Linked DNA regions of Homo sapiens. The protein of the gene in region 3 interacts with the protein of the main gene of each other region in a pairwise test. Each region holds a gene or a part of one and is shown on either strand. Other genes may lie near its edges.

Region 1 (7,139 bases), on a different chromosome or scaffold from region 3:
CAGGCCCCACCACAGATGAGCCTGCAGACACCCCCAAGGGAGGGGGCTGGCAGCCGGGTGGCTCTAACACAGGAGCAAGGGGACGCCGGGCCACGCTCCAGGCTGCTGCTAAGGGCTGGACAGGGAACCCTCCCCCAGGTCCCCCCAGAACCAGGAGCGTGGGGCAGTGCCCAGCTCCCTCCAACAGCAGAGAGCAACACAGGGGGCAGGGGTCTCCTGAGCCCCACAGCCTCGCTGGGGGTGCAGACTGCACAGTGACTCTGGACTCCCAGCCCTGCTCCTTCAGGGGCACCCTGCAGAGTCGACACAGCCCCGGCAGCACCCTCCGAGGCTTGGCGTGGGCAGACCCCAGCACCACCTCCCCACATCAGGGGATAGGCTGGCGTTCCAAAGGCCGTGGGCCTCATGTAGACCTGGAGGGTGTGGGCAGGCCCTGCTGGCCCTCATGGAGGCCTCATTCTTCCCTGGGACGCCACAGGCCTTGGCCTCAAAGGGCTCTCTGGACGCCATGAAGCACACTTAAGCTGGTGAGAGATGGACTTGTTTTCGTGGAGGACTGGATTTACTTGTGATTAATGGGGTACATATAAACTGACAAATGATACGAATTAGTTTAAGGGCCTGAAATTTCAGCCCCTTGCTTCTCCACAGCTGCCTGCAGACTCGGATGGCTCCACCTGTTTGCACAACCCCACGGGGCCATGGGGACACGGGGCCAGGGTGCTCTGCCCCAGCAACCACCAGACCCGGCTGCCCACAGGGGAGGACAAACCCTCTGGGGATGACAGGCAGGGGCGCCTGAGGCTGCCCCAAAGGCGCACGGATGGACCTACCCACGGAAGGTCGAGGATGGCAGGGACCGGGGGTGGGGGGTGCCTACCTGCCACCTCCTTGGACGATGGCAGACTCGCGGCGGCAGCCTCAAGGTCGGCTGGGACGGTGCCTCCTCTCTCCATGGCGCGCAGGAGCCCGCGCAGTCGCTCGCACTCCGCCTGCAGCTGGCTGTGGTCCTCGCGCAGGCGCTGCCTGGCCACACTGGTGGGGTTCAGGCTCATGTGCAGCACTTTGGTCCTGCTCTGGTCATAGTCACCCTGCAGGAACACACACAGCACAGGTCACCATGGCCCAGGCACACACGCAGCACGGGTCACACACAGCATGGGTCACCATGGCCCAGGAAGACACACAGCACGGGTCACACACAGCACAGTGCTCAGTTCTTTTGTCTTCTTGAGCCTGCCTGGCAGCCATCTCTCCTGGAAGGAGTGGCTCCTTCCCTGTGCCCTGTGGACAGGTGCAGGAACAAGGCCTGGCCACCTGCTGGGTCCCTTCTGCCTAACCACAGGAACAGGGTGAGAGGGGACATGCGGCCTTTGCTCAGCCAAGTGCGGTGCTTCCCAGAATTCCACACTCAGTGCCCGGGAGGGAGGCTTCCTCTCCTCTGAGGTTCCTGGCTGGGATGAGACTGGGAGCCCGTGTGGCCATGTTCCCATCTCTTCCCTACCAGCCTGGAAGGTGCCCCGTGCCACAAGAGAAACAAGGTCAACCACACAGAGATGGAAGGCAAGGGAGCCTGGCATCAGCGTGGGTGGCTCAGGAATGCGCCTCGCAACCTGATGTTCCCACGAAACCCAGGGCCGGGATGTGTGTGGCATCCTTGAGGGAGGAGTGCGCCTGGAGGCCCAGCCTGCTGACCTGTGGTGGGTGACCGACCCCCAGCAACAAGCACCATGCAGCCCTGCAGCAGGGACAGCCCCCCACAGCAGGGGACAGCCGCCCACAGCAGGGAACAGCCGCCCACAGCAGGGGACAGCCGCCCCCAGCAGGGAGGTGCAGGGTCACTGCGCACCCGAGACCCCGACCTCACGCCACACACAAACATCAGCCGCCCACAGCAGGGAGGTGCAGGGTCACTGCGCACCCGAGACCCCGACCTCACGCCACACACAAACATCAGCCGCCCACAGCAGGGAGGTGCAGGGTCACTGCGCACCCGAGACCCCGACCTCACGCCACACACAAACATCAGCCGCCCACAGCAGGGAGGTGCAGGGTCACTGCGCACCCGAGACCCCGACCTCACGCCACACACAAACATCAGCCGCCCACAGCAGGGAGGTGCAGGGTCACTGCGCACCCGAGACCCCGACCTCACGCCACACACAAACATCAGCCGCCCACAGCAGGGAGGTGCAGGGTCACTGCGCACCCGAGACCCCGACCTCACGCCACACACAAACATCAGCCGCCCACGGCAGGGAGGTGCAGGGTCACTGCGCACCCGAGACCCCGACCTCACGCCACACACAAACATCAGCCGCCCACGGCAGGGAGGTGCAGGGTCACTGCGCACCCGAGACCCCGACCTCACGCCACACACAAACATCAGCCGCCCACGGCAGGGAGCTGCAGGGTTACTGCGCACCCGAGACCCCGACCTCACGCCACACACAAACAACAGCCGCCCACGGCAGGGAGGTGCAGGGTCACTGCACACCTGAGACCCCGACCTCACATCACACACAAACATCAATTCCACCACATTCTGTCTCCTGGGAGTAGACACAGGTTACTCAAACAGGGTTCAGGAAGTGCTGGCCGTAAAAGAAAAAAAAAAGAGTACAACTGACCTTATAGAAATTAAGAACTTCATCCACTGAAACAGTGGAAAGGCACCCACAGAGCAGGAGGTGCTGTTTGAAAATCACATTTCTGAGAAAGGGTTCAGATCCAGAACATACGAAGAAGTCAGAAATAACCAAGGGCATGTCAGAAATAACCAAGGGCATGTCAGAAATAACCAAGGGCATGTCAGACAACCCACTCTAAAAATCTGCAAAACATGTGAGCAGACACTTCCCAAAAAGACACCCAAAAAGCTGATAAACATATGAAAAGGTGCACACACATGGGCCAGGGCTGGGGCCAGAGGCGCGCACGCACACACACACACACACACACACGCACGCACACAGAGACCAGGACTGGGACCAGAGGCGCACACACACACACGGGCCAGGGCCGGGGCCAGAGGCACACACACACACACACACACACACACACACGGACACAGTCCAGGGCCGGGGCCAGAGGCGCGCACACACACACACACACACACACACATACAGGCCAGGACCGGGACCAGAGGCGCACACACACGGGCCAGGGCCGGGACCAGAGGCGCACACACACGCACACACACACACACACACACACATGGGCCAGGGCTGGGGCCAGAGGCACACACACACACACACGGGCCAGAGCCGGGACCAGAGGCGCGCACACACACACGGGCCAGGGCCAGAGGCGCGCACACACACACGGGCCAGGGCCGGGACCAGAGGCGCACACACACATACGGGCCAGGGCCAGGACCAGAGGCGCTCACACACACACACACACACACGGGCCAGGGCCAGAGGCACACACACACGGGCCAGGGCCGGGACCAGAGGCGCGCGCACACATGGGCCAGGGCCGGGGCCAGCGGTGCACGCACACACATACACACACACATACACACACACACAGGCCAGGGCTGGAGCCAGCGGCGCACACACACGCACACACACGGGCCAGGGCTCCCGCCAAGTGCTGAGATTCTGCAGCTTGTGGCTGTGAGCTGTGGGGCAGTGAGACTGGATGGGCACCCGGTCCCTCAGGCACAGACATGACCATGGTCATGACATGGGTCATGTCAGGCACAGACATGACCATGGTCATGACATGGGTCATGTCAGGCACAGACATGACCCAGCAAGCCAGGCCAGCACCACGCATAGCAATGGCCTCCTCCCCTTTGGCAATGAGTTCCTGCCACCCTTGGGGCTTCTGCCCACGCACTCTCCTATCTCCCAGAGGGGAACAGGGAAACACATCCTGTGTTCAGATCACCCCACGCTCTCAGGAGAGGCCGGTGTGGACACACCCCACGGGGTGAAGAGACCGGGCGCAGTAAGCCTCCAGCCTCCCAAGAGCTCAGGCTGCTGTGGGCCACTGCTCTCCAAGTCCCCGAAGGACGGCGAGGCCTGGCTTGGGCTGTACCCTGGGGACCTCACTTGGGCTGGAGCTCATCAGCCATGGGCAATCGTGGTCCCAGAGCCCAGAATGTGCCTCCAACAGGGAGAGAGGAGAGGATGGGGAAGAAGGGAAGAGACCTCACCCCTCCTGGTGCCACCCCGGACTCTAAGACATCCCCCTGACGTCACGTCACACAAGCTAACTGCTGGCCCTGCCACCCCCCTCATGGAAGAGGCCAGTGGAGATGGACATGCTGACCTGGACCAGGGACCTCCGGCCCCATGGCACGATGGCAGAGGCCGCCGCAGAGGGAAGCGGGGTTTGCAGACACGGCTCGCTTGGCCGCTCCCTCTGTGCTTCTCCTGGGAAGGAGGAGGGGAGGGGAAATCCACCCACTCAGGCCCAGGGGAGAGGGAGGCGGCAGCCCTGCCGCTGGGCCGGGGCAGGAGAGGATCCGCGCAGCTCTTCACAGGTTTTCTGAGAACCTTGTAAACCTCAGAGGATGAAGAGACATCTTGTAACTCTGGCTGAATCACAGACTCTTGGGGTTGAAAGGATTGCTACTTCATCCAGTTTTCACAGCCGGGGTTAAGATAACCCAGTATGCAGAATCCAGCCACCCACACGCACTCAGGAGACCCCTCTGACGGGCGGCACTGGCTTTCCGGGGCCTCTGTGGGCTGGACAGCATCTCAACCTCTTCACCATCCTACGGAGCCTCGAGGAGCCAGGGAGGATGTGGGCAGAGGGTGGGGCCGCCTCCTGCGGAGAGCAGCCAGTCACGGGGCTGTGCAGTCACCCTGCCCCCGTCCTAACCACGTAGCGCTGCAACTGCACCCAGAAAGCCGCAGGGCACACAAGGCCAGCATGGGCCCCGCTGACGGAGCTGCGGGCACGGAAACACGAATCTGAATTTCAGATAACCCGCGTGTGTCCCAAAATATTCTTCTTTTGATTTTCTTCAACCCTTCAAAAATGTACAACGGTTCTTAGTTGAGGGGCTGCACAGAAGGCGGGGCTGTAGTCAGCTGACCCCTGGCAAGAACCAGGCCGCACAGCGTGTACTCAGCCCTCCTCTGACCCAGAGCAGTGAGACCCTCCTCCCCCAGGCCTCACCCTCCTCTTCCTCCCCCCGCAGGCCTCACCCTCCTCTTCCTCTCCCAGGCCTCAGCCTCCTCTTCCTCCCCAGGCTTCAACACCGCGGACCTCCTGAAGGGACCTCCAGGTGGGAGGAGGTAGTGACCATCCTAGAGGCTGCCCAGCAAGGCCTCGCCTGGCCCCAGCATCCTCCTACTTAGCAGATAGGGGGACTTGCAGGAGGGGTCGGGGGTCAGCGGTGGTGCGCCCAGCGCTGGCGTTGGACCCAGCAGTGCCTGAGGACGTCAAGTTCCCCGGGGTGGATGTCCTGGCAACGTTCAACGTTCCACGGGCAGGAACGAGAGCCAGAGGCACAGCCCCAGCCCCCAGCCCCCAGCCAGGGTGCCCCACGACCGGCCCATCATCCTGGGATGAGGTTTCCCCCCTGATGGGGGGCTTGAGGTCCAGGAAACAATTCTGTATATTAGAGGATTTAAGGACCAAAAGCCCAAGCCAGTAGAGATGAAGGAAACCAAATCAAAACAGAGAAAAGATAAAACTGAGAAGTTCTTCTTAAACACCAATCCTGTCACCCTCTGGCCCCCAACAGTGCAGCGCCCTGCACTGCTGGCCCCGCTGGGGGCGAAGGCTTGGTGTGTGCAAAGCCACCGTGTCCGGGCTGGGACCAGCCCCCAGGCTTGTCCTCCTCAGCCGCTACGCATGCACCACCAGGTCCTGCTCTCCCGGAGCCACAGTGTGAGGCCAAGGTCGGCGCAGGTTCCCGTGGCCCGGCTTCCACCTGCAGCAGGAGGCCCTGGGTCACGGAGAGCATTCACTGGGCACCTGCGGCTGGGGCTGGAGCGACCTGCGATGGCACCGCTGACCAGGGCTGAGAACAAGCCTGGGCTCCATAACTGGTGGCGTGGAGAACCCACCTCCCAGGAGGGCGAGGGAAGTGGGAGGACAGGCGCTAGGGCTCTGTGCAGATGGCAACATTCCAGGCACCTAGTCGTCTTTCTGTAAGTTCAGGGGACTTTCCCTGCCTAACGCCTGGAGAAGGCAGAGCCCCTAGAGGCAGCACGGGAGGGGCAGACTGGGCACCACCCACCCGCTCACGTCCCCACCGTGATTCTGGGCCAGGCTCTTGACCTCCACGCGTTCGTTCCTGCCATCCTTCCTTTCTTCCCTTAGTCCATCCACCCGCACACCTGTCTGTCCATCTGACATGATTTCCAGGCCCTGGATGCCCTCAGCACAGCTGTGAATACAGGGGTGGAGCTGCCACTCATGGTGGGAGCAGCTGGCATCCCACAGAGGAGCCTCCTGGGCCAACACTCAGCAAGTGGAGGGGACATTCCCGGCCCCTCCAGAAGGAGGCCACGCCTGAGCCCCTGGGGGCCCAGGACCTCTGCTCCAGGTGAGACAGGACCGTGCCCCAAGGTGGCTGGGGGCGACAGCCAAACTTCCAGCCTGCTGCTGTGACCACAGCCTGGGCAGCGCAGAGTCAGGCACACCATTCCATGCCTCGGAGCCCGCGCGCCACACATTTCAGCAGGTGCTGGAAGTGCAGGGGTAATGGGAGCCCTGTGCTGAGGCCCGTCTCCAGGGCAGCCGAGTGTCGGGATGGGAGGACGGCCCTATGTCCTATACAAACAGCACCACTCCTGCACCCACCCCACCAAGAGGAGCCATTTCAAACACACAGGCAGCAAAACAGCATGGGAGGAAACTAGGCGGGATCTAGGTGATTAGGAAACATCCCATGTCTCGGATCAGAAGACCCGGCGCTGTCGGGACCAGAGACTCCCAGGGCTGATCTGCACATTCTGTACAATCCCAGGACTCAGCCGGCCTCCCTGAAGAACTGATAAGCTGATTCTGAAACTCACACGGAACTGCAGGGGCTCAGAAGAGCCACCACAGGCTTGCAAAGGGGGAACACGGGAGGAAGACTCAGTCTCCTGATTTCAAAACTTACTACAAAGCCACTGCAATCAGGATGGTGTGGTGTGGGCATGAGGACCGACGTACAGACCAAC
Region 2 (7,139 bases), on a different chromosome or scaffold from region 3:
AGAATCACTAGTAGACTCCAAGTTCTCTGTTTCTCCTTCTCCCCAGTTTTAGGATTAGGGTCTATGTATATTCTCTCTGTCTCTGTCTCTACGTCTGTGTCTCTCTCTCTTTCCCTGTCTCTGTGTTTCTTCCAAATTATAAAAGTCAGTAGGATTCCCAGGCGCTGGTTTGGAGGGAGGAGTAAAGGTTGAGGAGGGGGTAAGTGGTAAGTGTCTCCCTCCACTCCCAGGTAAAGGCTTTCCTAGGGCTTGCGGAGACTCTGGGTGAAGTAGAAGTCTCTGTAGGCATAAGTGTGTTAAGGGAAACTATTTTAGGACAGGACCAGGCCTGGGTCAAAATCTAGTTCTCTCTCCCCCCCATCCTCCAAATAAAGGCCGGGTTGTTCGTCTTGAGGAGGGGATTGCCCCCCGCAGCAGCAGCGGCACCTGGAGGAGGAAAAGGGGGGTACCCAACCGTGTGTTCCCACAGCCCCTCCCTCCATGGTCCCTACAGGCGCTTCTCTGTGCAGCGCTGCGCCCGCTGCCACCTGGGCATCTCGGCCTCGGAGATGGTGATGCGCGCTCGGGACTTGGTTTATCACCTCAACTGCTTCACGTGCACCACGTGTAACAAGATGCTGACCACGGGCGACCACTTCGGCATGAAGGACAGCCTGGTCTACTGCCGCTTGCACTTCGAGGCGCTGCTGCAGGGCGAGTACCCCGCACACTTCAACCATGCCGACGTGGCAGCGGCGGCCGCTGCAGCCGCGGCGGCCAAGAGCGCGGGGCTGGGCGCAGCAGGGGCCAACCCTCTGGGTCTTCCCTACTACAATGGCGTGGGCACTGTGCAGAAGGGGCGGCCGAGGAAACGTAAGAGCCCGGGCCCCGGTGCGGATCTGGCGGCCTACAACGCTGGTGAGTGCGCGGCGCACGAAGCGCCCCCATAGGGTTGGGGGAAAGTGTGCGGCCTCGACGGCCGGGAGCTGGATTGAATCTCTGTGTGCTGGGCAAATAGCGAGCCTTAAGCACCGGACGGCCTCGCAGAAGGGACATTAGCCCCCTGGGCTTCCAGACTGTGCGTCCTCGGCTGGAGCGGGAGGAGAGGGTGCAGTGGTCCCTTGCTGCTCCGGGTGCAGGGCCTTGTCTCTGATAAATTGTTTTTTTGGAGATGGCTTTTTGGTTTGGGCCTTTGCCCCACTTTGCTAGGCAGGAAGTGGCAGGGATGGAGAAAGCAAGGCGGCGCTGACGCCAAACAGGTTTTGGGTTGGCGCGGCTGAGGGCCGGGAACTGGGGCAGCGAAGGAACGAGGCAGGGCGGCGAGGGTCCCAAGAGAAAGGGCTGGCTGTGGCCCGGGGCGCCGAGCTCGGCCTGGAGTGCGGCCTGACCTCGTGAAATGTCCCAAGGGCGGCAGGCTTGGGGAACTCGGGCTTGGGGAACTCAGGAAAGCAAAGGCTGCGGTTCCTTTTGCTCGGCCCGATCCTCCTTTAAAGACAGGTCTCAGTTTTCCCGGACTTTTTCCTCCGAGTTTCCTGGCGCCTGCTGGGGTGAGGGCCGTGACCCTCGGAAGCGAGCCCCCCGGGCGGGGACGAGACCGGAGCAGGCCTGGCCTCGCGCCGGGGTGGGGTGGGGTGGGGTGAGGTGGGGGGCTTGGTTCGGATTTCCGGCATCTTTGAACCCCAGGCCATTCCCGGAGAAGCTCTGCCCCCTCCCGCGCCCCTCCCTGCTCAGGACAGCTGCAGAGGTTCTGAGTTCCGGCAAATGAGCCGTCAACATCTGCCCGAAGTCTGCAAGGCCCGGAAAGGTTTATGACTCTCCGGGCTTCCGAACTAGAGTTTATGTGCAATTATTTTCTTTCTTTCGTTTGCAACAGAATTAGATTTGGAGATTTTGTGTTCTTCTTCCTTTTCCCTTTAGTCTAATGCACAAGCAGAAAAAAGCAAAAACAAAAACAAACCCAAGACTGTGCAGAGGGTGCTACGGCGGGAAGAAGTCAGTTATTTTCATCTTAAAGAATCTGAGTTGAATAGAGAGGGAAATGAGGGGCGGGTGTTCGCTCCAACGAAATCGCTTGGAGGATCATGGGGCGTGTGTCCCTGTGTGCGGAACTGGGAGGAAAACGCAGCCCCCAGTTTGGTAAATGGTGAAGCAGCGGTAGGCCGGTCGGTGGCGCGGATTTAAGATTTGCTGAAGGCACTACCACAGATGTAGCTCTCTGGAACTTCCATCCCTCCTCTCCTACCACCCCCCAAAAAAAGACAAAACCGAGTTCAGACCGGCTCCCCCAACACCAAGCCGCTTCTATTTATCAAGTGGGTCAACTTCCACTCGGAAGCACCTCGCGGGGCTCGGCTCCAGGGCACCTGGTGGCTGGGGAGCTGTATTGTTTTCCTGGGCACGGAGGTTCGGCGCCGGTTTTAGGATTGTGCAAAAAGAGAGTAGAAGGTACAGAGATTTATTTCTGCTTTTTGCTGTTCAGCCGCCGTTTGCCCCAGCGAGGTGGGCTGGAGGCTGAATTTCAAGCCTTGTTTAACCTCTACAAGAGACACCCTCCATTCAGCCATCTCACTTTCTCTCTGGCCTCCCTCTCTCTTTTTTTCCTTTCCGTTCTCTCCGTCCTTTCTCTCTATCTCTGTCTCTGTGTGTGTCGTGTTTGTTCCCGTGCCCTCCTCTCCGACCTTGGCCGGGGCTCCTAGTCCTGAGAGAAACGGCGTTCGGTGCGCCGGCGGTGGCTATGCGGCTGGCTCTTTCGGGGCTCCCGGGACTAGGTTGGGGAAAGAGGGCATCTCCCCGGCCTCTCGGGGCCCAGCCCAGTCTTCCTAGATCTGGCGTCCGCCCTTCCCTCCCCTCCCGCACTGGCAGGAGAGAAATGGCCGCAGTGTGGGCCGCGGGGCAGCTAGGACTGGAAAGCGGGGACCCTGGAGGGTGCGATCGCGGACGGGGTGTGCGGGCGCGGGTCGTGTGCGTGTGCGTGCAGGGTTCCGACCACGGGGACACGAGCTTGTTTGTGGCAGTGTCCCACATCCTGTGGCCCAGCCACGACGACCCCTTGCAAAGCCTCTTGCTCTGGGGACAGTCCCTCCGAGGCGCGGCGGCACCTTACTGAAGGGCGGCGAGCTGGGGGCCGAGTGGGGAGGGGGCGCCGTCGGGGCGCCGGGCGCTGGGCTTACAGCAGAGCCGCGGGCCGCGGGGTCGGAAAGTCCTTCCGGGGCGGGGCCGCAGCGGCCTCTTCCCGCAGCCCCTCGGGCCCGGGCCCCGGTGGAACGGAAACCTCCCCCTACCCCGGGAGGGGCTGCCAGCGGGCTGGGGGTGCGAAAACGGCGGCAGGAGCGGGCGAGGGGCCCGGGCCGCGCACTTTGCGCCTGGGTTTGCGCGCCGCGGCCGCGGGAGTCCCGCGCGGACCGGCCGGACGCCCGGCCTCCCCCAGCCCCAGCTTTTTGTGTGTGTGTGCCTGGCGGCGTAATTACTGATTTGATTCCAATCCATTATTTAGACAATTGAACCTACAATCTCGTCTTTAGTAAAATGAGGCGAAGTCAGATTTGATTACAGGTTCAGTCCCAGCGACAAGAGCTCGAAACCCGATGGGTTAATAACAGATCACGAGTAAATTATTCATGATTTTACGAGCTCTTTAGCTCCATTGAATCGGCCTAATTGAGAGGAAAAAAAAAAAAAAGGAGAGAGAAAGCCCGGGTCCTCCCCCTCCCCTCGGCCCCTCGCTCCTCCCCGGATCCGATCCTGGGGAATCTCGACCCGCCCCCGGGCACTGGGGGCGGGAGTGAGGGGGTTCGGGGCGCCGGCCAAACCTGGGCCCCACGGCTGCCTCCCCCGCCGCCGCCCCCTGCCCTTGCCTCTGGCCGGCCTCGGCCTCGCTACTTAGGGCCGGCTCCTTTCCCTTTTTCTCCACTCCCCTTCTTTCCCCTTTTCTCTACTCCCCCGCCAATAACGGCTTCGGAAAAGGCCTCCCCCGCAGGGACCGGGTCTCCCGGAGCCCCGGGATTCAGCTCGGCCACCGGACCCTCGCCACAAGCTGCGCCTGTTTCCGGGACTCGCTTTCCCCTCCGCTCTCCCTATTTCTTGCTGTCTTTGTAGCTGTCTCTCTGTGGTTCTCCTGGCTCCTTCGCTTTCTTTTCCTCTGTCTGTCCTCTCTTTTTCCTGGCTCTGTCCATCTTCCGTCCCTACCCCCTCTCTCTTTCTCTCCCTCCATTCTGCCTTTCTGTGTTTGTCTTTTTCTCTCCTTTCTCTGCCCTTTCTGTCCCCCTCCCCCGCACTACTACCCCACCTAGGCGGCACTCAGGGCAGGTCCCTTGGGCCCATGGGGGCGCCGGGGTCCCCACGGAGCTCATTAACAGCAGCCAGGCCCAGGCGGGGGCTCGGTGGAGGGATGGGCCCAAAGATACCCCGTAGGGAGGCTGCCCCACCCCCAGTGGAGCTGGGGACTGGGGGAAAGAAAAGGGTTGCTCACCTCAGCGGGTTCCAAGCAGTTCTGGTGGATCAGGTTCAGAGGCATCCTCTGATCCCCTTTAAATTGCCGGACCCGCGCTCTTCACTCTGGGCGTGCTCTCTGTGGGAATGCAGCCCCGGGGGTGAGGGGACCTGAGTGCCGGTGGAAAGAGGCCCCTAGGAGGTGTAGCCCCTAGCTAACAGCTCCAAAGGCAGGGGCAAGACTTGTATCTTGCAAATTCTCTCTGCAAGGGGCTCTTCCCCATCTGGGCAGGGGAAGGGGGAGGTCACCAGCAGAGTAAAAGTCCTTTGGAGGTAGTGTGGCCAGGCAAAATGCAGCATCCCCAGTTAAATTGGAATTTTGGGTACGTAACAAATACATTTTTAGTGTAAGTGTCCCCGGCAATATTTGCATTTTGGAAAAATAACGAATAAATTTGAAATTTGTAGTATAAGTGTCCCGTGTAATATTTGAATTTTAGATAAATGACAATTTTTTAGCATAGCTGTGTCACCTGTAGTATTTGAATTTCAGGTAAACAACAAATACATTTTTAGTATAGGTATGTCCCATGCAATATTTAGGACATGCTTATACTAAAAAATTACTTATTATTTTTCTGAAATTTATATTTAACTGGGCAACCTGTATTTTCATTTGCTAAATCTAGAGCTCTGTTACGGGTATGTGATGAGGGCACAAGATACCTTCTCAGTTCTCACTTTAGGCGGACCGAATGTACACCCCTTATGAGGCTTACCCCAAGGCAAGACCTTAAGTGTGGCATGGCTCGGGAGGTGCCATGAGGAGGCGACCTTGGGAGGGGTCCTGCAGGTCCCCATCAGCTTCCAGGTGGCTGAGCAATTTTCTGAGGCCCAGGTTTTCACCCATATTCCCCACCCCCAATGCCAGCCAGGCATTGGCAGCGTGGCCCCCATGAGGCTCCTTGTGGTTAGGGACAGGCTCCCTCCTCCCTTCGTGGTGTAGTGGAAGAAAACAAGGAGTACTCCAGTGCTAAATCTAGGCTCAACAGATCAAGATCAATCTAGCTGGTTACCGGTGGTGTGGCAGTGTGCAAGTGGCTTCATTTCCCTTAGCGTTAGTTTCCACATCTCTAAAATGGGAATAGTCATAGCCACCTCTCTGAGAGGTAATGATGTACAGTGACATTTGTAAAGCCAAACACACACCATAGGTGTCTACTACATGTTTATTTCTGCCTCGGACTTCCTTCCCCGTCCACTCTGCCGCTCTCTGTGGACTGCCGCAGATCTCTGAACTTCCCCGAGCCTAATTTGCTCCACTTGTTCACGGAGAAACAATCATCTTACAGGGTAGCGATGAGGATTAAACTGCAAAATGCAGTTTCCAACCTTTGGCCCAGTGCCCAAGGCCCAGGGGTCCCTCAGTACTTTTGGGTGTGGCAAAATGAACATGAATCTCTGTTTCAGCAGTTTCTAGGTGCCGGTCCCAGACACGGTAGGGGGAGACGGCAGAAAGCACTCCTCCTTAGAGTGCCTTGGAAAACAGGAGGAGGGCAGGCCCAGAGACCCTGTCCTGCTGTGTCCAAAGTCAAGTGACTTCCCTTGCTGAGCCTCAGTTTCAACATCTGTAAAAACGGGAAAAATAATACCTGGTGCTCCTAGGATTGTTTTAAGTACCTAAAGAAAATGTGCCTGGAAAGCCCTTTAACACATCACCTGGAGTTCAATCGGCCATCAACAAGTCGTAGCTGTTGTTGCTGCTGCTGCTGCTGCTGCTACTATTGTTCTTATTGTAACATAATGGCTCAGAATGATTTTTGGATTCTCCCAGAGCCGGGATTCAGTGCTGCAGTTCTTAGCAGTGTGATCCTGGGTGGATCGCTGTCTCTGAGCCTCAGTGTTTCCATCTATAAAATGGGGATGATGTCCCCCTTTCATTGTGGCGCAGACATGCAGCAGGGTTAAGGATTGAAATGTTTGGCAGTGGGTGGGGCGAGTGTGGATTTGGCATGGGGGGCGGGTCAGGAAGTTCACCCACCGGCTCTGTGTCTCCTCCCTAGCGCTAAGCTGCAACGAAAACGACGCAGAGCACCTGGACCGTGACCAGCCATACCCGAGCAGCCAGAAGACCAAGCGCATGCGCACGTCCTTCAAGCACCACCAGCTTCGGACCATGAAGTCTTACTTTGCCATTAACCACAACCCCGACGCCAAGGACTTGAAGCAGCTCGCGCAAAAGACGGGCCTCACCAAGCGGGTCCTCCAGGTCAGCCAGGGCCAGGGGTGAGGGCATCTGCGACCACCAGGGACTGGGGTGGAACCCTGCACCCCTCGCCGTGGGCCTTGGAAGGACCTTCCACCCTGTGTCTGCTTCTCTGTGTGTTTAATCTTTCTCATTCTCTTTCTTCACCTCTCCAGCCTGTCCCCATCTGTATTTCAGTCTTTTTTTTCTTACTTTGTCTTTTCTCTTTTTCAGTTTTTGCCTCTCTGTTTTTCTGTTTGCGTATCGCTCCATCCTCATTGTCTCCACACTCGGTCTCTTTTCTTTCTTCTAAACAATTCTTAGTTTCTGTTTATTATTCAAGTGACACTCATTTTACACACATTCACATCATAAAAGGTTCAAACATTTCAGATAAATCTAGAGGCCGCCCCACCCCATCCCAGGACGTACACCCAAGGTGACTATCATTAGCTCCTGCTTCTTGCTTCTTACCCACTCTAGTTTC
Region 3 (7,771 bases):
GACACCATGGCAGGCTAATTTTTTTTTTTTTAAAGGCAGGGTTTTTGCTGTGTTTCCTAGGCTGGTCTTGAACTCCTTTGCTCAAGCAATCCTCTTGCCTCAGCCTCCCAAAGTGGTGGGATTATAGGCACAAGCCACTGTGCCACTACCTGCATCTCTTATTTGGCATTGCCTTTCATAGAGGAAGGGGCTGCTAATGCTGCTTGATTGGATGAAAAGTTTGGATTGTGCTTCCTGCCCAGAAGATAGTGGGGAGCAAATCTTTATTCATCCAGCCCCAAGGGAAGGAATTTGTCAGCCACACAGCCTGTAACCATGAAATAGACTGAGGCTAATTAATCCAGAGGGGGAAACAAGGACACGAACATGGCCTCATTAGCAAAGGGAACAAGAGAAAATGAAATGATCATCATCATATTCTTTAAAATGTCATACAAATAAAAGAGCTACTTATTAGCTCTCAACCTTATTAATATTAATATTTAATAAGTGGGTACTTAGTATTGATTAATCAATCAGATATTTGGGGGTAGGTATCTACTATATGTTGGGTACTACATAGAAAAGTTACTTATTCTTAACAATTTGGACATGTAAATATGGGTCTATTTAAATGTATGACCTGAATAGAACTAAGAAGATACTATGGCAAGTGTTAATTTATATCAGCAAACAGAGCTCTTTTGATCTTTTTTTTTCACCATTGGGTGACAAATTTCCTGGACATGCAGAAATTCTGGCTGCTTCAAGTGTTCTTGGCACACACTAGGTAAGTCGAACATTATCAGCCTGCCAGTGGCTGGAGCCGAGGCACTCGAGGTACTCACCCTGAATGGCTGGTCTGGAATGAATGGAAAGTAAGGGATTGCTGACTGTTCTTCACCCCTCTCCCCAGATATACAAGAATTTCTGAGTAGCTGCCGATCTGTGAACACAGCTTTGAGTTCGATTGCCACATCGGCAGGAGGGTCTTCTGAGTCCCCACAGGTCAAGCTGATTGCAAAGCTGAAAAGAAAATCATCCCACTGATTAAGGGTTGGATATAAAAACATTTCAAAATGACCCAAGTGCTTATATTTCTTCTTCCTCCTCTGGGTTTGTCCATTTTTAAGAGGCCACTACTCTTCAAGAGAGGTTAGATTATGGAGAAGTAAGTCAAACCAGCTTATTTTGTTACCTAAAGCAAGCTCTGGTGAAAACTTTGGTGTTGAAAATGACTAAAATTAGAGAATTCCACTTCGGAATTCTCAAAAACAGCCACAGAAATTGACCAGGGGAAATAATGTTAAGTTGGGTTCTTATTCATCTTGATAGTTCTTGCTCCTGGCACCATGTTTCAAAACCATTAAAAAAAAAAAAAAAAATCCTCTGGCCTCCCTAAGGGTCAAAGAGAAAATGTGGGCCTATATTTATAATCTCTGATATAAATAGCTGTCTGGAGAAATGATGGCTGGGATTCATACATATTCGTTTCATGGGAACATGGTACTTTCTTGGCACTGGCAACTAGCAACACTGTCCACAAGGAGAGGAAGAGGAGTGCTAAACCACAACAGAAGTGGGCAGGGCTCAGCCACAGCCTGATAGTTCTGTCCTGACAAAGACTCTGCCTTACCTCTCTGGGTTGAGGTCTACGATGCCCATCACTAACACCTTCTTGCCTGGTCTCATGCCACCTTTAATGTGCCCACAAAATGGAACTATCTGAAAAGGGTGGGAGAAGAAAAATGAATTTTACAGCCTGTTAGGGAAAAGCCAAGACCTCAGACCCTGAAGGCCTGACCCACTGGAAAATGCAATAAACAAATGAATAAAATTTTAAAAAGCAATGAGAAAGGAGGAAGGTACAGGCAGAGACACAGAGCAAAATCATTTACCAGTCGTGGGAAGTACACGTCCGCTTGAACTGGAGAGCTCAAAGAGTTGTTTAAATGGCCATCATCTAGTTTCTAAAAATAGAAGTACACAGATTGGCTTTCCATGGGCTCTTTTTTGGGGGGCTGGAGGAAGAACCCACACAGATGTGGTGGAATCCAGCAGCCTTCCACATGCACACAGTGTCTGCAGATGATGCCTCTTCACCGTCTCTTAGATAATCTCATCACCCCCGAACAAAACCCATCCTTTCCACCCGGTAGTTAAGCCTCTGAAGATCCGCAGACCCTTCAGATCCAGATCAAAATCAAGGTCGAGGTCCACCGAAGAGCCAGAGCCCCACGCCGGAGGAGGGCAGGCCCCTCTCCAACCGTAAACGCTTCTGGAAGCGCGGTGGGCCAGGCCTGTCCTTCGGGACGTGACTGAAGTGCAGCGGCCGTGCTCAACTTCTCTCGGGAGCCCCGGGCGCCGACCCATTTCCAAGGGGGAATCCCCGGTACGTCGGGGGCGGTGGCGGGGCGCGCGCCCCGGACACACTCACCCACGCGCACACCTGGCTGGCGGTTGCACGGCACAGAGGGGGCTGTCGGGCGTCCCTACCCGCCATCCTCCCCAAACTCCCTCCCCAGCCCAGAGCCCCGCAGCCCGGGAGCCTCTCCAGCCCCTAACACCGGCCGCGCGCAGCCAGCGGCTGCTAACAGGTACCGGGCGCCTTCCCACGCGCCGGGCGCCGGCCGGGCCTGCGGCTGCTCAGCACCCCAGCACTGCTGGAGCAGGCGGCGGCGGAGTGCGGGACGGCGGGGAGGGGCGCCTCGCGCGCGCCCTGCCACACTCACCACCACGGCATCGCTGTCGGCCACTGATCCCGCCATCTTCTTGCCCGGCGCGGCGGGGTACGTGGGACGCGGCGCGCGGGCGGGGATCCCGGGGCTGTCCTGCGCGGGGCGGGGGCGGGGGCGCGGGTCCGAGCTGGCGGCGGGCGCGCGCACACACGAGGGGGCGCGCGCGCGCGCGCCCGGGGCCCGGCGCCGACCTGGCAGGCAGAGCCTGGGAGGAGGGGAGGGGAGGGAGGCAGCGCGAGCTGGGAGGGCGAAGGTGCTTGCCGCGGCCCAGAACGGCCCCGGACCCGGGCCGACGGGGCTGCTTGCTGCCGCTGCCGCTGCCGCTGCCCGACCAAGAAAAGTGGCGAGGGCCGTGCCGCGTCGGCCCTGGGCAGCATTTAAAGGCCTCCGGGGCCCGGCTCGGGAACCGGGAACAGGGCGGGGACCCGGCGGGGCTGCCGCGGCTTGCTCAGCGGGCCCTGCCCCTCGGCCATTGGACGGTGGCGGAGGCCGGGGCGGGAGGGACGGGCCTGTCCGGGTCCGGGAGGGCGGGGGCCCTGTCGGCTCTCACCGGCCAGAGGGTGGGCAGGGCCGGGGCTGGAGAAGTGAGGGCCCGAGCCGGTCAGGTGACAGGTGCTCGTGCCACCCGCGCCCCTCCCTCCAGCCTCCTTCCTCCTGCCACGTCCTGGGCGCTGGTGGGGCGATGGGAGGCGAGGTCGAGGGAAGATTGGGTGCTGGGGGTGGTATTCCAGAGTGGGAGACTTGGCAGGATTTCTTTCAGAGAATTCCAACAAAATCGGGGGAAGGATTCATTCTGCTCTCTAGGGCAGAAAGAGAATGGAAGGTCTGAAGGCTTGCAGAAATAAATGTGTGACCTGAAAGAACGAAGCAGAGAGGACTCAAGGTAGGGACCTTTCTATCCCAGGAGGCTAGATACAGAAAGGTCGCTCTTCCCTGTGGAAGGACAGGCAGGTCTAGGGGTCCCTGGACTCTCTCGAGCAGGAGTCAAAGCCTTACCAAATCAAAGTGGGCGCAGTCACTGTCCTCAGAGAGCCTCCATTGAGCCCTGTTTTTAACAAGTCACTTGCCCAGTCTGGGGTAGTCAGCTTCTCACTGAAAATCTCCTCATACCCTTTGTGGAGTACTTCCCAGGGGATACACACCTCTTTTATTCAAGCCAGAAATTCCTTTATGGCATTTCCACACTAGGACGATTATGTAACTTCTCAGATAAAGCTGTATCAACATATCCTCTATTAGGTGACATCCTTGGCTGAAACATTCCATTGCATGAATCACCGGGGCGTTCTATGCTAATAAGCAGGGAGCATGTGTGACCTACTGCAGTCCCAGAGGGCCCCTCAGAGGCTCCTTTTTTTTTTTTTTTTTTTTTTTTTAAATTGAGACGGAGTCTCCCTCTGTGGCCCAGGCTGGAGTGCAGTGGCGCGATCTCAGCTCACTGCAACCTTCGCCGCCCGGGGAGGCTTCTTTCTTCTAGTCACTGCAATTGGCTGTGTGGCCTAGAACATCAATGTGGCTTTTGTGTCTTAGTTTTCCCTTTATGGACCAGAGCTAATGATGGTAATCTCAGTTGAGCAGGGAGAATTACCTGCACACGCCTGTAAGCCTCACTCATATCCTCTGGAAGTGGTTCTTGAACTAGATAGAGGCTAAAGCGCAGTACGCTTGTGGCTGCAGCACACTTTGTTTACCAGTCTTAGCTCAAAATCACACTTTATTACTTTAAAATGTTAGGCACTTATAGGAAATGATTGACATTTGAAAGCATACTTTAGTATGTATCAATTTCTGAGAGTCTGGTATAGAGAAGAAGCATTAAAGTGCAGTAGTTCTTTATCATTAACTGAGTGACACAATAAGGGTGACACTACATGTGATGGTGGTTAAAGAGCCGGTGTCTCGCGTTCAAATCCTGGCTCTACTATTCACTAGCTGTGTGATCTTGGAAAAATTACTAAACTTCTCTGTGCCTTAGTTTCTTCATCTGTGACTCAGAGATGACAATGATGATAATAATGCCTATCTCAGGTTATTGGGAAGATTAAGTAAATACCTTCCTTAAAACAGTATTGGGGACATAGTAAGCACTTATTATACCAAAATACTGAGTGCCTGCTGTATACCAGGCACTGGGGATCCAGCAGGCTACTTTTTTGCTGAGCTTACATTCTAGTGGGCAAAGGAAATCAATAAACAAAATATGTCGGGTGACAAAAGTGTTAGGAAAAAGTAATAAGGCCAGGTGCGGTGGCTCATGCCTATAATCCCAGCAATATAGGAGGCTGAGGCAAGAGGATCACTTGAGGCCAAGAGTTTGAGACAGGCCTGGGCAACACAGAGAGACTCTGTCTCTACAAAAATAAAAAAAAAAATTAGCTGGGTGTGGTGGTGTGCACCTGTAGTCCCAGCTACTTGGGAGGCTGAGGTGGGAGGATCACTTGAAGCCAGGAGGTCAAGGCTGCAGTGAGCTGTGATCTCACCACTCTACTGCAGCTTGGGTGACAGAGTGAGAACCTGTCTCAATAATAATAAAAATAATTAAAAAGCCAGTAGAGAGAGAGATAGGAGGTAGGGTGATGCTATTTATACAGGATGGTCAGGGAAGCCACCTCTGGTAAAGTGACATTTGAGAAGACCCCTGAAGGAGGGGGGTGAGTCATGTGGACATCTGGAGGAAGAGTTTGCTGGCACAGGGAACTGCAAGGGCAAAGTCCCCAAGTACTGGGGCTGGGGGCAGTGACTGAGGAGATGTGTAGCTAGAAATGGATAGCCCTTCTACACTGTGGTTGAGGATTGGCTTTTACATGGGGAAATAGGAAGATATTAAAAGTTTCTGAGCAAAGGAGGGACATAGTTTGCCTTCTATTGTAGATTCATCCACATGCTGCTGTATGGAGTGGCCTTTGGAGAGAGGGTGGATGATAGGAGGGAGGGTAAAAATGGGACCTAGGAGATTCCTATAGCATTCCAAACAAGACGTGATGGTGGCCTTGACATGGTGGAAGTGGTGAAGATGTGAGAAGCCCTGGGCCCTTGATAAGTCCCAGCTGTTATCCTGCAGCTTGGAGAGTTCATATGGTCTTCTGAGCCTCAGTTTCCTCACTTGCAGAATTAAGGGGCAGAACTCATTCATCATTCCCTCTTAGCTCTTAGAAAGCTCTGGTTCATGAAAAGCTGTGTAAATACTATCTAAATTGAAATGGGTTTGAGAGTAGGTGCTGCTGAATGAAAATAATCTTGGGTTGAATCTTTTGATAAGTGCTTTTGTAGGGCGAAGAATAACCCTTTGATTTGTTTTGTAAGTGGAGTTTAAGATATTTGGATTGCTGGAGATGAGTTTCTTACATTTTAGGAATGTAAAGAATAGGAAGGTACTAAACGTGCTCAGAATGTTTTATCATGGAAAATTGCCTTTTATTCCAAAAGTGCTTGATTCCTTCTCAGTCTATAGAATGGTTTATTTTGAATATGAAGAGCAGAGAGAAAGCCTGAATGAGTTTTTTTGCTGTAACTAAAAGTTGAGCAGGGTCAAACTATCTCTTATGGGGAAAAGCCATTAGCAAACTAATGAATTATAGAGCTTAAAAAATTCTTTTTTGAGTTGTATAGCAAAGAATAGGCAAAATTTGCTCCATGCTTTGATTATAGGTATTTGTGTGTAAAAACATTAACCAAATTGGGACCCATTTATGAAATGCAGTAGTTAAATTTCAAGATGAACCATGTTACCACTGGAAACTACTAAAAACGTTAAAGAAGTGGGGAAGGCAGTCAAACAGATTATTAGCTTTGAAAAAAAGTACAAACAAATCTTTGAAGATGGGCTTTGCTAAATGATTTTTCCAGAAGAAAATAGTAGATTACTTCCTTTTTACCTTAACATTTTATATGTTTTGTTCAAATGTATGCACATGGAATTTCTAATATTGGGAGGAAGAATAAATATTGATGACAATTCAGCAACTATTTTATCAGTATTGCTACATGCCGTGGTACTATGGAGATAGGTGAAAATGCATGAGTCTCATCCTCAGGAAACTTACCGTCTACTCTGGGACATAATGGCAGGATGTATTAGTGGGTAAGATAATAAAGGCCTCAGACCCACAGCCTGAGCACTGATGTGGGGAGATTCACTCCCATTTGGAGGATTAAGGCCACTTTCTGAAGGAGGTGGCATATCCCTAAGCATATGCATAGCAGCAACTGCTGCAGAACTACAACAACAAGTCTTCGAAGACCACACTGCAGCTCTGTTTGTGGCCTGAATTCTAATCCCACTCTTCTCTCTGGTGTGGCAACCAGCTGAACTGAACCCCTGCTCCCAGAGGCTGCCTTTCGTCTGTGCCTTGGTCCAGAGAGGCACGTGCCTCCATCCCTTCCACCATGCCTGCCATCTGAGGCCTCCTATGGGCCATGATCCCAAGGCCCAACTTGAACTTACAGACCACTCATTTTCTATCGGTGTGTATATACACATTTTCTAAAGCAGGGTTTCTCCTCACAGTAGTGACATTTTAGGCTAGGAAACCCTTTTTTGTGGGGGGCTGTCTGATGTGTTAGAAGACGTTGAGCACTAGATGCAAATAGCACTTCCCCCTCCTAGTGTGACAACCAAAAATGTCTTTAGATATTGACAAATGCCCCTCTTGGAAGGGAAGGCACAAATTGTCCCCAGTTGAGGCTCAGGATACACTACCCCAAAATGTAACTGTAGGAGGCTAGAATATGGCACCCCAAAATATACTTCTTTGGCATATTTTGAGCTGATTATTCTAAGAAACTGCAGCTGGAAAAGCTGTCCTTTTGTAAAAGAAATGTATATCTATAAAGGAAATCTAATACAGTATCTGCATCATGAAGAGGGCTGCTCCAGACAACTTTTATTTTCTGGGTGACTTTATCTACATAACAAGATGACCTTTATTCACCATACGTTCGTACTTTCACCCTCCCACAACTTACGTTGCCACCATCCTCTTGAAGCCCTAAGCCCTATTCCTTTCTGTAGCTCAGGATACTATATGAGCTCCAACCATCTGACCCTTTGGAGT

What was found.
Region 1: the proteins of LGALSL (region 3) and MAD1L1 interact in binary tests that used the Homo sapiens proteins (3 or more experiments, as listed by UniProt).
Region 2: the proteins of LGALSL (region 3) and LHX2 interact in binary tests that used the Homo sapiens proteins (3 or more experiments, as listed by UniProt).

What each region holds. Positions count from the first base shown.
Region 1 is NC_000007.14:1,935,807-1,942,945, forward strand, and holds part of MAD1L1 (mitotic spindle assembly checkpoint protein MAD1), read right to left. Parts: intron 4,766-7,139; exon of another isoform or gene 4,282-4,765; intron 1,092-4,281; coding exon 881-1,091; intron 1-880. UniProt on the Homo sapiens protein: Component of the spindle-assembly checkpoint that prevents the onset of anaphase until all chromosomes are properly aligned at the metaphase plate.
Region 2 is NC_000009.12:124,014,629-124,021,767, forward strand, and holds part of LHX2 (LIM/homeobox protein Lhx2), read left to right. Parts: intron 1-493; coding exon 494-897; intron 898-6,470; coding exon 6,471-6,676; intron 6,677-7,139. UniProt on the Homo sapiens protein: Acts as a transcriptional activator. Stimulates the promoter of the alpha-glycoprotein gene. Transcriptional regulatory protein involved in the control of cell differentiation in developing lymphoid and neural cell types.
Region 3 is NC_000002.12:64,449,522-64,457,292, reverse strand, and holds the start of LGALSL (galectin-related protein), read right to left. Parts: upstream 3,132-7,771; 5' UTR 2,748-3,131; coding exon 2,712-2,747; exon of another isoform or gene 2,415-2,711; intron 1,950-2,414; coding exon 1,878-1,949; intron 1,705-1,877; coding exon 1,616-1,704; intron 1,006-1,615; coding exon 828-1,005; intron 1-827. UniProt on the Homo sapiens protein: Does not bind lactose, and may not bind carbohydrates.